Linked DNA regions of Homo sapiens: regions 2, 3 and 4 are each reported to be linked to region 1. Evidence: microRNA targets listed by miRTarBase, many of them from high-throughput screens and not tested one by one. Region 1 holds a microRNA gene; each other region holds the end of a gene's coding sequence.
The links. The annotated mature microRNA hsa-miR-196a-5p reads UAGGUAGUUUCAUGUUGUUGGG and lies in region 1 at 2,236-2,257, shown strand. An mRNA with a match to its seed (bases 2 to 7 or 8) in the 3' UTR can be bound and repressed. Matches are read on the target gene's strand: a 7mer-m8 pairs with bases 2 to 8, a 7mer-A1 pairs with bases 2 to 7 and ends in A, and an 8mer does both.

Region 1 (4,150 bases):
TTCCTCCCTGAGTATAAATGCAATGCGACTGCAAAAAAGGCAAAGACCTCAGACTCTCCTTCCAAGGGACCTGTGGTTCGTGCTGCGAAGATGCTTCCACTTAAAGCATGAGAAATGGGGTGCCGGGATGTGGGGTGTGGTGTGTGCCCTCATAGATGGGGGTGGGAGTGTGGCTGGTGTGTGTGTCAAGCCCTCACTCACCCACGCACTCACACACAGCATTCTGTTCTCCATGCAAAGTTAAGATCGAATCCATCCGCTTGTAGGGGAAAAAAAGGAAAAAAATTAACCAGAGAGGGTCTGTAATCTCGCAGAGCACAGGCAGAATCGTTCCTTCCTTGCTGCATTTCCTCCTTAGACTAATAGACGTTTTGGAAAGTTCGGCTAGTGTTCGTGTGTTTGTCGTAGCACCCAGAGCCTCCACCAAACCCTCTCCATGTCTTTACCTCCCAGTCGCTCTAAGAATCTGCTTGAAGTCTCGTATTTGTACTGCTTTCTGCTTTTCTCCCACCCCTCCTAGCACCCCCACATCCCCCATCTAGTAACATCTCAGAAATTTCATCCAGAGGAACAAAAAAATTAAAAATAGAACATAGCAAAGCAAAGACAGAATGCCCCCCCCCCCAAATATTGTCCTGTCCCTGTCTGGGAGTTGTGTTATTTAAAGATATTCTGTATGTTGTATCTTTTGCATGTAGCTTCCTTAATGGAGAAAAAAAAACCTAATAAATTTCCAGAATCATAATCCTCAAATGGATGGTTTTTTGTTTTTAGTGATTTTTAGCAACACCCCTCCCCCGAAGAGGCTGAGTGTGTGGATGTGTGTGTTTTGTGTTTGACTCATCTCCTAGAGCCTTTCTAGAACGTCTCTTGGCGGGTTTAATGTAAGTGAGAGACCATAACGTTGATTTAAATATTATCCAGGTGACCACAATAAGTCAAGGTCATAAAACAGTAATGTCAGGACGGTCTTGGTGCGCGCGAGAGGTGGATTTTATGATCTGCAAATATAATGTGGTGCTGCAGTAAAAGATGCATTTAAAGGTGACTGGAGGAGGGAAAGAGGCAGAGAGCAAGCTGCAATCTTGAGGAGCAGACGGATCTGATTGCCTGGGGTGCTGGGCTGGGCGCACCCCACTGCTGCTGGGGGTCACCCCAAGAGCCCCCCACCCATCCAAGGAAAGGAATAAACTTAACCGCTGGAGGGGCATGAGGAGCTCAGCCCCCCCAACCTCGACAGCAGCTAACAGAAACGCCAGGAGCAGCAGGAGGAGGAGGCAGCGACAAGGTAAGAGAAGCGGTTTCTTGTTCTTCTCTTGGCGGCGGAGTGGGGATGAGCGGTGTCCCCAGGTGTCCGGCGTGCAGCGGACAGAGCCTGGAGGAAGGTGTTTAGGGCATCCGTGCTTGCCGAGAACCCAGGCTTTCCTAGTGGCCGCTGGCAGCGGAGGGCAGCGACTGGGAGCTCCCTCTCCTTCCCTCCCGGGCCCATTGCCATGGGGGTTCCACAGTTAAAGGGATAAATTGATGGTTTTTGGCTTCTTTATCTTTTCGGGCACTTTGGGTCTCCTCGAAGTCGACACTCTGGTCTAGGTGTTGCTCAGTCTGGTCGTCTGTTGGTGGGGGAGGAGGAGTACAGAGGGTTGAAGCTTGAAGCTTAGGTTTTCCTGCTTTTCGCTGGTTTGGATGTGAGCCTCGTCCAGCCTCTTGTTCCCTGTGCTCCCTGGCTGTAACGTTTTGCCAGGCAAGTGGCCTGATTGGAAGTGGCTCCAGAGCACAGGGCTATGATTCAGCTACCCACATTCGCTGAGAAGCCTAAACCGAGCTGAGAGGGAGAGGATCAGAGGGAGTCTAGCAGGAGAGTGCAGGAGAGCCAGATGGACAAGACAGGGGACCCAGCTCCAGAGTGGAAGGAAGATCCAGCTTCCCCCAGGGCCAGGGCCAGATGCAGGGGAATAGCTCCACTGCGGTGCTGGGGGTGGGGCAGGTATTTGGCCGCCAGTGGTCCCATTTCACCAGATTTTTCCTGAGCAATTTGCTTAGACCAGAAACTAATGAAGGCAGTCAGACCCCTTACCCACCCAGCAACCCAAAGTCTACTCTCTAGTCCTTAGGGAGGTTGTGGGGGCGGAAAGGGGGACGGGGCTGAATTTCTTCCTTCCCCAACCCCCTTCCCTTCTCCTCCAGATAGATGCAAAGCTGAATCTCCCGCCCTGCTCGCTCAGCTGATCTGTGGCTTAGGTAGTTTCATGTTGTTGGGATTGAGTTTTGAACTCGGCAACAAGAAACTGCCTGAGTTACATCAGTCGGTTTTCGTCGAGGGCCCCAACCCACCTCTCCCACTCCTACCCTCCCCAGTGGGACTGCCCCACTGCCCCCTCCCAGATAGGGCAAAGTGGGTGCAGACCAAGGAGGACAAGCTGTGAGTGGGGTTGCAGAACAAGTCTGGAGAACCCTGCTTTATGCCGTCCTCTCAACCTATCCCAATCCCTGTGATTAAGGGAGAGGAGTCTTTCCTGCAGCTATTGTCTCCTGGGCCCAGCTGATGGAGACAGACAAAGAGGGTCCAGCCAATTCCAAGGAAATTCAGGAGTTTGAGTAAGAGGTGGCCTGGCGGGCCAGCTCAGTTGGGCAGCAGGGTGGGGCAGAATTATTAGCAGAAAGAGGAGCACAGAAAGAGAAGACGGTCTCTGGAATGGTTAGCCTCTCCCACCTACCACCTCCAGTCGACTGGGGCTCAAGATTCTCCTTAGAAAAGTGGGGTACCTGGAGGTTCCAAGAGTTGGGGAACTCTGAGCGCCAGCCCAGCCCTTTCCCCTTCCCCTTCTATAGCTCCATCTCCAGGGGAAGGACATGTTTGGGGTGTTGGTAGGTTAGAGGAAAGCCATCAAAGTCCAAGTAGAACCCCTCACACACGCACACGCACGCAACTGGGAAACATCAGGGCAAAAACCTGACTCTGGTCTCTGTTTAGTCGTCTGTGGCCTGAAGGCCTCAGTTTCTGTGGCTGTGACTGTCAGGCAGCTGCCTGTCTTTGCACTATGTGGAAACATCTGGGTGAACAGAGGCTGCCCGTGCCCACCATTGCTATGTTGGTGGAAAGGTTGTTGGCTGATGCCAGGGGGAGGAGGGGAGGAGAATGGGGTAGAGGAAAATCTGAGCAGTGTGAAACTTTGCAAAGCTTCCTCTCATCCTTTCCCCCTTGGTTCTTCAATTCTGGCCCTGGTTGCTACAGAGAAAGTTCTCAAAAGAGGTTTCTTTGCCTGCCTGCGGGCGGAGTTGGGGGGGGGGGAATAAATGGGGGAGGGGTTATGGAGACTGAGGAGATACACCCCTGTTCTCAGAGATACTGGGGAAGAGAAGCCAAAAGAAGGTCAGGTTCTTGGTTCTCTTACTTTGAAATTATTATGATTATTAAAACATTATAAACGTCTAGACAGGGAAACAAAATTATGTCCCTGTAACAAAATATATACAGAGTTCTATATTCTCACAGTCATCTGCTGGGAGGGATATATGTGACCTTGTATGAGTGTAGGGCTCTGTTTCTGTCTCCCCTAGGCTCTCTTAAATACCCTGTATGTATTTATACGCATACACATTTATTTTTCCCCTCTCTTATGCGAACATATTTGTTTTGACTCCCAAGGAAGCTGGAGGAGAAAATGGGAATAGAATTTCCTGTCTCCCTAGCTGGATTGTTGGTCTGTCTGTCCCCCATCCCTTTGTGAGAGAAAAAATTTCTTCTCTTGGAGAGAAGTATTCAAACCTCTCTATGGCTCCCAGGGAAATGGGGAAGTTTCCAGAGAGTCAGGCCAGCTGGTGGGAAGCAGGCAAGGGATTCCCCTAGTTTGGGAGCTCCTAGCAGCCTTTGAGTCTTCAGGCTGCCCCAGGCACACAGTCAGTTGGGGCAAAGCGTGTCCCAGGCAGGGACTGGGTGCTCAGGAGCATTTGGCTTGGAGATAGAGTCCCTGATGGGCCGAAATTCACTAATGAACGACTTCTGTGCTTTGGGTCTCTGTGCCCCCATTTCCGTTTCAGAGCTGTTGGGCTTATGTGTGGGAGGTCAGAGAGCCAGGGGTTGAGGTGTCTCCTCCCCAAATGCAGAGAAATGGAGCGAGGTCTCATAGGGCCAAGGTGAGGACCAGTCTGG
Region 2 (4,000 bases), not on the chromosome of region 1:
ATTTTAAGCCCACCATTGAGACCTACTACTATTTTGAAGATTCTCTTCAAAATATTACTGCTCATTAACAATGCATCTAGTCACCCAAGAGCTCTGATAGAGATGTACAAGGAGATTAATATCATTTCCATGCCTGCCAACACAGCATCCATTCTGTGGCCCATGGATCAAGGATTTACCTTGACTTTGAGGTCTTTATTATTTAAGAAATACATTTTGTAAGGCTATAGCTGCCATAGGTAGTAATTACTCTGATGGACCTAGGCAGTCAATTGAAAAGCTTCCAGAAATGATTCACCATTCTAGATGCCATTATAATAAAAGATTTATGATTCATGGGAGGAGGTCAAAATATTAACAGTAACAGGAGTTGCAAAGTTGATTCCAACTTTTATGGATGACTTGGAGGGGTTCAAAATTTCAGTGGAGGAAGTTAACTGTAGATATGCTAAAAATAGCAAGAGAACTACATATGGAGCCTGATGATGTGAGTGAATTACTGCAATCTCACGGTAAAACTTGAACAGACAAGGTTTTGCCTTTTATGGATGAGCAAAGAAAGTGGTTTCTTGAGATGGCATATACACCTGGTGAAGGTGCTATGAACATTGTTGAAATTACAATGAAGGACTTAGGATATTTTATAAACTTAGTTGATAAAGCAGCAGCAGGGTTTGAAAGGATTGCTTCCAATTTTGGAGGAAGTTCCATTGTGGGTAAAAGGCTATCAAATAGCTTACATGCTACAGAGAAATCTTTCATGAATGAAGAGTTGATCAATGCAGCAAACTTTATTGTTGTCTTATTTTTAAAAATTGCCATAGCCACCCCAACCTTCCGCAACCATGACCCAGATCAGTCAGCAGCCATCAACATCAAGGCAAGACCCTCCACCAACAAAAAATTATGACTTGTTGAAGGCTCAAATAATCATTAGCTTTTTTCAGCAATAAATAATTCTTTAATTAAGATAGGTATATTGGGTGTTTTTTTTTTTTAGCCATAATGCTACTGCACACTTAATAGACTACAGGATGGTGTAAATGTAACTTTTATATGCAGGGGAAAACCAAAAAACTTCATGTGACTCACTTTATTGAGATATTCACTTTATTGCAGTGGTCTGAAACTGAACCCACAATAACTACAAGGTATGCTTGTAAATACCTTATTTTTAACAAAAAGTGAAAATGATTTCCCTGTTATTTACTAACAAATAGACCAGACATTTGCATCAGACAGTGAGCATAAACTTCTCTGATCACCTCTCAAGAGACATCTCCCATTTCTCTTTTGACTCTCCTCAAGATTTCCTGTAAGACCAAACTTTATCTTCCATATGTCTCACAGGTCAGTGTTCATAATAACCATCAGTTATACAACAGCAATTTAATGAATCTCAGAGTGAAGACAAATTGCCGGTTTCTGAGTAGAGGGCCAGGATAGGTCACCTGGATACTCATTGAAACTAATGATTCTCAACTTCTCCTGCCTTCAACTCACCAGAGGAATATTAGACATCCACTTGTTAGTGGTTCTCTATGGGGGATAGTAGAGGAAAGCCAAATTTGGGCATTAATAGAACAAATCTTATGTTAAATCCTCGTATTATTTTTCTTGAGATAATATGACTACAGCTCAGATATAACCATATCCAATTTTTAACTACTTCAAACCAAGTAATTCCATATTATTCTCACTACTCCTATCTAATTGTGGTATCAATTGGCTCTAAAAATATTAAACACATATATATTACTTGAGACCTCTAGACTATAAAATACTTCAAAAGTCTAGTCCTTAAAACGTAGGGCAAAAAATACCTCAATTTTGGCCGGGCGCGGTGGCTCACGCCTGTAAACCCAGCACTTTGGGAGGCCGAGGCAGGTGGATCAGGAGGTCAGGAGTTTGAGACCATCCTGGCCAACACAGTGAAACCCCGTCTCTACTACAGATACAAAAAATTAGCCAGGCATGGTGGCAGGTGCCTGTAATCCCAGCTATTCAGGAGGCTGAGGCAGGAGAATCACTTGATCCCAGGAGATGGAGGTTGCAGTGAACCGAGATCATGCTGTTGCACTCCATCCTGGGCGACAGGGCAAGACTCCGTCTCAAAAAAAAAAAAACAAAAAAACAACCCAGCAACACACATAATTGCCTAATTCTTTTCAATTAGCAATATTTTTATGTTGCAAAACATATAGGATAAGACATACTTACTGCTTATCTGGTCCTCCACAGAAAATAATTCAGCAATATAAATACTAGATCAATATTTAACCATCAAGGAAAAGATATACTGCTACATCAGCTGATTTTTTTTCTCTTTGAATTTAATGTATTTACATCAAAAAATTAGGTAGTCATTTTACATTTAAGGAATAAAAACCTTAAAAAAAACAATACAAAGAGTGAAAGGATTTTAACCAAGTTTACATTTCTTTTTGCTATAATTTTTAACAACAATTCGTCTCATCATAACTTAATGCAATGTGCAAATGCAGCACCCATTACAATCATTAAACTAAATTTAAGGAAGTACATTGTTAATAGTGACCCTCGGAGGAAATGGATTTCTCTTCTATTAAAAACTCTATGGTATATAAGCATTACATAATAATGCTACTTAACCACCTTTTGTCTCAAGAATTATCACCAAAGTTTTCTGGAAATAAGTCCACATAAGAATTAAATATTTAAAAGGTGAAATGTTCCTTATTTTAACTTTAGCAAGATCTTTTCTTTTTCATTAAGAAACACTTTAATAATTTTAAAGCAAAAGCTGTTAGAGTCTAGATAGCTAAAACTGTACTCCTGAGTTCAAGCTTACAGATAAATCTTTTGTTAAGTAGTTCTCAATAAAATATCTTCCCTCCCCATACCCCTACCCGAAATCTTATATTGTTCTTTACAAAACTTTGGTCAAGAGTAGAAATATATCCAGGCAGATGTATATGCCATACAATAGCAAGAACAGTAAAGCCCAACTAATGATTTTGAGTTTTAAAAATAGAAGGCAATTAAAATGTACTCAAAGTTACATTAAGAAAAGCTTTCACGGGGGTAATATTGAAACAGTCACAAAGGTTAAGAAAATACTGATATCAAAGTACAAATGACTACAATGTTAAAATAGACAAAAACTGCTATACAAGAGCCTCTTTGAAAATTAAAAATAAAGAACACAACACATGAGTCAGGATGATTTTCCTGTTCTACTCATGAATTTTAGTCTTTATAAGGTTGGTTATGTTGACATCTAGAAGAGTTTCTTATCACATCTGATGGTCTCATTCCAACTTCGTAGGGTGGGTCTTCCCCAAGGAACCTCTGATCCTGGTCGCATCTTGGTCATTGTACGATTTCAAAGTAGTGCAATATCGCCATGATGTGCTGGGGCATGAAGACGTATCCTGTGTATAGTGCCATCCCCACAATGGAAACCAGCATGGAATCTGAGTTGTAGTTAAGGAAACTTATTATTATTAATTTATTCAAAACTAAATCTCCACATGTCTTCAACAACTCTTTTATGCTGAAGTACCCATTCACTTAGTGCTTTCTCATTTATATCAAGCACTGATAAAAAAAACAACAAGAATGATAATACTAGCCACTAACAACCATGCCTGGCACCACTCTAAGCTGGTTTTGTTTTATTTTGTTTTTAGCTCATTCTATCTTTACTATCACCATATAAAGTAAGTACTGTTATTCTCCCTGTGTAGTTGAAAATATCAGACTGCTTCAAATGTTTTTGTTTGTTTGTTTCTCTTTTTTTTTTTTTTTTTTTTTTGAGACAGAGTTTTGCTCTTGTTACCCAAGGCTGGAGTGTAATGGCACGATCTCGGCTCACTGCAACCTCTGCCTTCTGGGTTCAAGTGATTCTCCTGTCTTAGCCTCCTGAGTAGCTGGGATTACAGGTGCCCGCCATGACACCCAGCTAATTTTTGTATTTTTAGTAGAGACAGGGTTTCACCATGTTGGCCAGGCTGGTCTC
Region 3 (4,000 bases), not on the chromosome of region 1:
CTGTATTGCTTAGTGGGCCATGTGTTTAAACTTCCAAAAGGCATATTTTAAATAGTTATTGGAGTGTTGATGTGAAGAGCTCCTTTGATAATGTATTTTCTTTGTAGAAATTTAAAAGCCTGTTGATTCAAGAACTTTCTAAAGTATTTCCGGAAGACATGGCTAAGTATCGAAGCATCCGGGGGGAGGATCACCCGCCTTCTTAACCAGCTCACCCTCCCTGTGTGAAGATCCCCTGGGACTGCGATGCGGCGTGAGGCTGGGACTGCGAGTGCTGACGCCACCTTCCTGCTGAGGTGGGACTGGGCCCTGGACACACCCCTCAGCCCCTCTGTCCTCATTGTTTGGCCTCATGGGACCGAGGGGCTGGAGGAGAGGCGGAGCTGTGCCCCAGCTGTTCCAGCAGCTTGTCTGGCGTCAACTGGCTTTCAGAGTGCTGACCCCTCATCACTGTGGGGATCATTCTCTCTGAGGGCAGATGAGGCGCAGGAAAATAGTCTTGGAAATGTTAAATATGATGGGTAAATTAAAAGTTTTACAACATTCTACCTAATATTTTTCTTTTAACATACTCTTTCTGTTCTATTGTATTATGGTGTCCGAAAGCTAAATAACGACTAGGAAAAATTTTTTTAAAAAAAGAAAAATCAGTTTAATGTGGGAAGTACTTAAGTGGTATTATATTTTACATTTTCAAGTATAGTGCATAAAGAATGTTTTAAATGTAACTGTTTTCATGGATTTCAATTAGACATGCCTATAATAAACTAAGTATGTGGCTTATTCCATGTAATTATTTTTGTAATATAATACAATGTGTCTTGTAAACAGTTAATTATTACTTTCCCAGAGGGTTGGTAATATTCATAAGAAAATTTGTTTTCCAGGCATTTAGGCAGGAAAAGCTAAAGCAAAATGCAGAACTCCAATTTTTTCTACAAACCTTTCCTAGCGGCTATAGTACACCAATTTATTGACACTCTGGAAAGACGCCCGGCAGGGCTGTTTCAGCTTCAGTGTGCTTACAGATCCTGAGGGGATTCTGTGAACCTGCAGGTTCGGATTCACACGTCCGTTGGGCCTTGCAAACTGCATTTTTCATGAACTGCAGGTGGTGCTGTTTCTGTGATCTGTGGGCCACCCTTGGAGTTGAGGCCCTAGTGCGGCCTGTGCGGAGGTTGACCTATAGACCCCTGTGTCCGAATGGCCTGGGCAGGCTTGTTATTAAGGTAGGGCCCCAGTTCAGACGTGTTGAGCCTCAGGCTTTAGGATGGGCCCTGGGAATCTGTGTTAATTTGCCTCCTACGAGCGATCCTGAACCAGCCTCGATCCTAGCCAGGGCTGCCGGAATAAAACACCACATTCTGGGTGGTTTGAACAACAAACATGTATTTTCCCACAGTTCTGGAGGCTGGAAGTACAAGCTCACGGTGCCTGCAGAGTGGGTTTCTCCCGAGGCCTCCCTGGCTTGCAGACCTGCTTACTTTGACCTCACGTGGTCGTTCCTCTGTGTGTGTCACAGCCCTGGTGTCTCTTCTGTGTGTCCTAACCTCTTTAGAATCTAAGAACAGCAGTTAGATGGTATTAGGACCCACCCGAAGGACCCATTTTTAACTTACTTCTTTGAAGAACCTGTCTCCAAATACAGTTGCATTCTCAGGTCCTGAGGTTAGGGCTTTGACACTGGAGTTTTGGAGGGATGCAACTCAGTCCAGAATACTCCCCAGGAGGGTCGTATTTACCAAGAGTCAGGGGCCAGGCCCCTTAGGAAGCTGGTCCCTCGCTAGCAGTTCTGTTCTCTCCAAAACAGCACCAGAAAAGGACTCCTACTGCTACCAAGGGGAAGAATTTCTGCTAGAGTAGAGGAGGCCCCTGCTGGCAGGTTCGGGTGCCTGAATCGCTGTTCCGCCTTGTTTTTCTGGCATCAGGATGCTGACTATTGGCTGCTGCACGAGGGCCATGTGGGCACGCGGCTCGCTGGGCTCTTCCCACACACTTCACCTGCATCAACTCACCTGGCCCTCACCAGCCCTGTGAGGTCCGGCTTTCTTTATATTACTGATGTTGAAGCTGGGGCACCAGGGCTTAACGTGCCCGAAGCCCTGCAGCTTCGCCTCCCTCTGTGCTGGTTCTGGGTGGGTCCAAAGTGTCCACAGTCCCCTCTTCCTGGGCTCTGAAACATGGAGGATGTGCCGGCAGTAGGGGCTGTTCTACATATCCTGGGACTGAGTTAATCGGGTGGCCTCAAGCTGTTTTAATCTTGATGTCTGAGCCTTGGGAAGAGAGGGTGACTGTCAGCTAGAGATGCGTATCTGGTAGCCCACAGCATGACAAGTCTGCTGACCTAGGCCCAGCAGGGGCGGTGTAGCTGTCACACATTATTCTGGAATATTCACCAGTCTTTTTTTGAGTAAAAGTTTGGGTATATGGATGCACTGCCTTGGAACTCCTAACTTTCATCAGTGTGTCTGATGACACCACCACAGTGGGTCCCCAGGCAATGAAGAGGTGTTGGAGCCCCTCGACACTGTGACAGGCCACATGCCCCTTAATTCCACCCCACCTGCCATTACTGTTAGTCACAAGTGCCCATCACTTTCAAATCTCCTGAAATGCTGAGGAATCTACTTAGCTCGGAATTGATGTCAGTGTGAGAGGACTGGAGGGTTCCAGGCCGCGTTTGACACTCGGCGAGGCATGCTGTGACTGTCACTGACACTGCCTTCCAGAGCTCTCCACCCGGAGGAGCTTGGGTTCAGGTGCACACACCTGGCTGGCCCTTCATCCCTTCTTCTCAAAGACCTCATTTTGGTTAAAAGAATGATTGCGAGAGTCATCCTGGGACGGTATCAGCCATTTCGATCAGCTGCTTCACATCACCCCTGCCCATTGCCACCCAGTTCGTTCCAATCCCTGCTTTGCTTCTGACCTCTTCTTCCCCACCCCTTTCTTCCTGCAGACACAGATCGGGCAAACAGCCCCAGGGCCTACTGATTTTTGTTATGCCCAAGGACACCGCTGAACCACCACGAGGCAGGTATGGACTCAAACAGGGCCTGAGCCTGTGTCACTGTTCTAGATAATCTGTGCTGCCTCTGTGGGTCAGAATGAAAAAGCGAAAATTAAGCCCCACCTTTACACAGAACTAGAACATTCTTTATCTTTTTGGGTGTACAATCAGAAGGGTTCATTACAGAAAACTGAAAAATAGAGCTACAAAAATCTCCACATTTCTGCCCAAATTGTTACTATTGTGATTTTCATCCATCTAGATGTTCTCCTCTTGCACAGATGTGCACACACACTGAACAACTAGATGTGGAATTATTACTATGCACATGAGTTGGTAACCTTTATTCTTTTAACAGGATGCCATGAAATCTGGGCAACTCAAACTTCCTCTCACATAATTTTAATATTTAGCGTTCCATTAATGTGCTAACAGCAGATGTGTTGTTATTTACATGCTGGACACAGGTTAAGCACTTTCCATGCATTGCCTCAATTCCCACAGTAAATCGGTGAGGTTTACAGATGAGGGACCTGAGGCGCCTGCTCAGGTCACCCAGCTAACGAATGGGAGAGCTGGGCCTGTGCCTGCCACGTCACAAGACTGTGGCTCTCCTGGGCTTAGTTTATCAGCTCCCATTGGGTACCTGTGTGCTTCCCAGTTCTTCACTAATATGAAGTTATTATCTTTGACCATACATCTTCCACTTGTTCAATTGTTATTTAGGGTAAATTCCTGGAAGTTGAGCTGTTGGAGTTACACTTGATTAGGATTGTGATACCATCTGTCTCTATTGTGCTCAAGTCCTGAAATAACCAGGTGTTAGGTACAAGGGGAAGCGCTCATCTTTGGGGAGTATCAGTAATGTCACTGAGTAGTTTATCAGTTTTCTGTGTTCTTTTTTTATTTCCATTTTTTGAATCCTATCAAATATATATGAGTGCCTCATTAAAATATTTCTACAGTCAGTGACAATACAGGTGCTGGCTA
Region 4 (4,000 bases), not on the chromosome of region 1:
AAGAACCAACTGTAGAAAATACAGAGTAGAGGTGAGTTTCAAGAAGCACTGGGCAAGCACTTGAATAACTGATTTTGATGGTAAGAGCTCCAATCATCCCAAGGCAGACCCTCTTCTGGGAGAAAACCAAAGATTCACCTTCAAAACGAGGTGTTTCAGGAGCCCCAAAGCATAACATTCTATTTCCTAAGAAACACACTCTATATTTCTGTTAAAACAATTTAAAAAATGGTACACATTTAGTAGAAAATGAATTGTGAAACACTGCACTAGCAACATCATTTCTCAAGGACACATGAGAAGTACTTTCATGTTCACGACATTTCTTTTGGGTACTCAAGTCATTTAACTTTTTTTTTTGAGACGGAGTCTCGCTCTGTCGCCAGGCTTGAGTGCAATGGCGTGATCTCAGCTCACTGCAGCCTCCGCCTCCTGGGTTCAAGTGATTCTCCTGTCTCAGCCTCCCGAGTAGCTGGGATTACAGGGGTACACCACCACGCCCAGCTAATTTTTGTATTTTTAGTAGAGATGGGGTTTCACTATGTTGGTCAGGCTGCCCTCGAACTCCTGACCTCGTGATCCGCCCACCTTGGCCTCCCAAAGTGCTGGGATTACAGGCATGAGCCTCCACGCCCGGCGTCATTGAACTTTTTTATTCAAAGGGGTAGAATGTATATGTGGGACAAAGAAAGAGGCTAGATTAACAAAGCTATCATTTCCTTGTTTCTCTTTGACAGCTGGTCAAATAATTCAGGCATAGCTAGGACTGATGCTCAAGTTAGAAACAGGTGGCCCATGCTGTCCAATATAGCAGCCACTAGCCACATGTGCTTATCAAGCATTTGCACTGTGTCCCATGCAACAAGGAACTGGATTTTAATTTTAATAAATTTAATATAAATTTTTAAACTGATACTTATTTCAATTCTTGAAAAAAACTTTTGTCTTAGCTACTTGATATGAGAATCTGTTTTCAACTGTAAGTTGTATGAAATCTAAATACAGATCAAGTATGTCCAATGAACATTAGCATCCAAATGGAGATGTGCAGAAAGTGTAAAATACACACCAGATTTCGAAAGCTTAGTATGAAAAAGAGAATGTAAAATGTCTCACTAATATATTTTTATATGTTGAAATATTTGGCAAATGTTGGATTAAATAAACTTTTATTAACATTTTCACCTGCTTCTTTTTATGTTTTTAAAAGTTGCTACTAGAACATTTAAAGTGACCTATGTTGTTCATGTTATAGTTCTCTTAGTGTAGAGGTAGACTGTTATAGAGCCAGTGAAACTTGACTTATAAATAGCTATGTAACCGTATTTTCTGAATAATCACCTAGCTATCCAGAGTGAGTAAACACTCACTTACTTAAATATTTAATTTCCTGGAGAAAATGTGGATTGGTGGGCTTTGAAAAGTTGGTAAAAACTTTGTGTTTTAAGAATAAAATTAAACAGTTTAAACGAGAACCTGAAATAATACTTAGGGCTTAACAGTGTTTGTAAAAAATTGTTATCTTTGCTCTAGTCAGGCCTGATTTAACATTAGTTTGGTTGATACATATAAGATATATATCATTTTGGAAGTTTTGTGAATTACATATAATAAAATATAGCTTAGCAAATATGCAACCAAAATGTTTTTATCTTCTCTCAAACCTGAAGAATTCTCTATTACTCTAACCTCCAAATAACTTATTTGATTTAGGGAGAAATCAAGGATGTCTAAAACAAAACAATTGATGGAAAGGCTCTATTAATTTTAGAGTAGATTACCCCCTACTCCCCATCAGCATTGTTAATTTAGATATACTAGTGCCCACCTTCTTTTCTCAAAAATCCCCTACCAGCTTACATGAAAGTGGTAAAAGAATTCAATAAGCTTAGCTTGAAAACCTAACCCAAACATAATTTAATCTTTTGATGATGATTTAAAAATCATACAATTACAGACACATGCTGGCTACAAAGTCTCTGAGGCTCAAAGTTTTAAGATTAGATGAAGATTAGCTGGGTGTGGTGGTACATCCCTGTAGTCCCAGCTACTAGGGAGGCTAAGGTGGGAGGGTTGCTTGAGCCCAGGAATTCGAGGTTACAGTGAGCAATGATTGTGCCACTACACTCTGGCCTGGGTGATACAGTGAGACCCTGTCTCTAAAAAAGGAAAGATTAGGAGAAGATATTCACTTTGTGGGATTTAACTAGTCTGCAATAAAAATGAATTATAAGCTTCCATCTCCAGAAAGTTATCAGACACAACACGTAGATCAACATTTTCAGGAGATCAGTTAGAATTCAGTAGAGTATATATAAGACTTAAATTACACTGAATAAAGTTTTATGTTCCAGAATAGTGAAGAAAGCTTTACCTTCATGAAAATCAAATCTCTTTTCTGACAAAAATTCAGAATTTAGGGTGAATGTCTTGATCCAATTTTGTATTTTAAACTTAATTAAAATTTTGATAGCCTTCTGTTGAAAAATATGTAAATTTATGTTTCTCAGAAAAGACGAATTCAGAATTTTAAGAAATCCTATGCTTTTGGCTATCTTGTTACATGAATTTTGAGTTAAAATACTGAGTTTATGAGTTTGAATCTTTCTGAAGTGTTAACACAATAAGCCCACTGTACTGCATAAAGATAAAACGTTGAGGGTTACTTTGTCTTAGGGGACTGGAAATTATTAAAAGGGCAAATTCCCCATACATTGTGATCTGTCATATTTAGCCCTGACTTGTCTTGTGGTAACAACTGTGTTGCCTAAGAAAAATAAGAAAATAGAACAAACCATTCTGCCCAGTTCAACCAAAATGACTCCCTTTGTCCTAGAAAACAAAAAAACATAACTGGGGAGGTTGGCAAGACCATAACCTATGGCTGTGAACATTTAAACCTTACAGAAAAACTGAGATCAATGCCCCCAAAGAAAAACTACCCGAGTCTTTATGAGACATTGCAGATTAAAATGAAAACCATTCAATAATATTGAAATGCTCAATACAAATCAGTACCTTAGACAAGACATACACACATCTTGCTACCTGGATGGAGGGCATTATAAACATCAGTTAGCCATCACAGCTCTCACAGAAGCATCTGCAAGTCAATGGTGTGGAGAGCCTGATTTCAAGCGTTCAAAATCCAGTCAGAGCTGGCTTATAAGAAGAGCCCAATCAAGCAGTCAAACGTGTTTACAGGTCAGCTCTGCTCCTGGCCAAGTGGCGTTGGCTGGGGCACGTGGTGAGTGGGTGGTGGCGGACCAGGCTCCTGTGTCAGCTGCAGGTGCTGAGCTGGATCTGAAGTACTTGTAGCTAAATGGAGCTCCTCTGTTTGCTCTTGATGGGCATGAAGATGTTCCAGTGTTTCCTTGGACAGAGTGATCACGTGCACTGGCTCTGTTTGTGAGGGCCCCATCTGGCTTTCAATCATATTGAGGCTCTGAATGTGTTCTGTTTGCTCCTGTTGAGCTGAAAGAATTAAATTCTGCAGTTGCTCTGGCTGCTGCGTGAGCAGGGTAAGATTAGCAGCCTGGTCTGCAGTCATGTTTTGGGAACTCTCTGCAGTCACAATGCTGATTCCCTGGCTAGGACCGGGCATGAAATTGATGTTATGTACAGAATCGGTTACGAGAAGCTGAATTTCCTGCTCTCCCGAGGTAGAGAGTTGATATGGCTGTAGCTGAAGAATATTCCTGACCTCTTCTGTATTACTACTGCCAGAAATGCTGCTGGCATCTGAAGCATGCTTCTCCTTGCTATGAATTTTCAAGTGAGCCTTCAAGTTGTCTAAGCGAGCAAACTGTAAGTTACACTCAGGGCAGGAGAAAGGCTTCTTGCCAGTGTGTAGAATGCAGTGTCTCCTTTTGGCACTGGAGTCAGAGAAGGATTTGCCACAAATGCCACAGGAGTATGGCTTTTCTCCTCTGTAAGAAAATAAACATTTTATTTTTAAAATGGAAATACCTACTTACTACTTCCTGATTATTTAGGGGGA

Region 2: the mRNA of SPTSSA is a reported target of hsa-miR-196a-5p. Seed matches in the 3' UTR shown: 8mer at 2,357-2,364.
Region 3: the mRNA of MED10 is a reported target of hsa-miR-196a-5p. Seed matches in the 3' UTR shown: 7mer-A1 at 546-552.
Region 4: the mRNA of ZBTB24 is a reported target of hsa-miR-196a-5p. The part of its 3' UTR that is shown has no 7-base or 8-base seed match.

The regions. Positions count from the first base shown.
Region 1 is chr12:53,989,527-53,993,676 of GRCh38, forward strand. MIR196A2 (microRNA 196a-2) reads left to right here and starts at 2,212; the gene lies at 2,212-2,321. It overlaps HOXC10 (homeobox C10), which reads left to right. Exons shown (of 2, transcript NM_017409.4): 2 at 1-753.
Region 2 is chr14:34,431,850-34,435,849 of GRCh38, forward strand. It overlaps SPTSSA (serine palmitoyltransferase small subunit A), which reads right to left. Exons shown (of 2, transcript NM_138288.4): 2 at 939-3,455. The coding sequence ends at 3,352. Among named protein-coding and RNA genes, the nearest start is that of SPTSSA, 28 kb to the right of the region's middle.
Region 3 is chr5:6,368,709-6,372,708 of GRCh38, reverse strand. MED10 (mediator complex subunit 10) reads left to right here. Exons shown (of 4, transcript NM_032286.3): 4 at 108-835. The coding sequence ends at 206. Among named protein-coding and RNA genes, the nearest start is that of MED10, 7.8 kb to the left of the region's middle.
Region 4 is chr6:109,462,646-109,466,645 of GRCh38, forward strand. It overlaps ZBTB24 (zinc finger and BTB domain containing 24), which reads right to left. Exons shown (of 7, transcript NM_014797.3): 7 at 1-3,929. The coding sequence ends at 3,206. It also overlaps a transcript of MICAL1 not described here. Among named protein-coding and RNA genes, the nearest start is that of MICAL1, 8.9 kb to the left of the region's middle.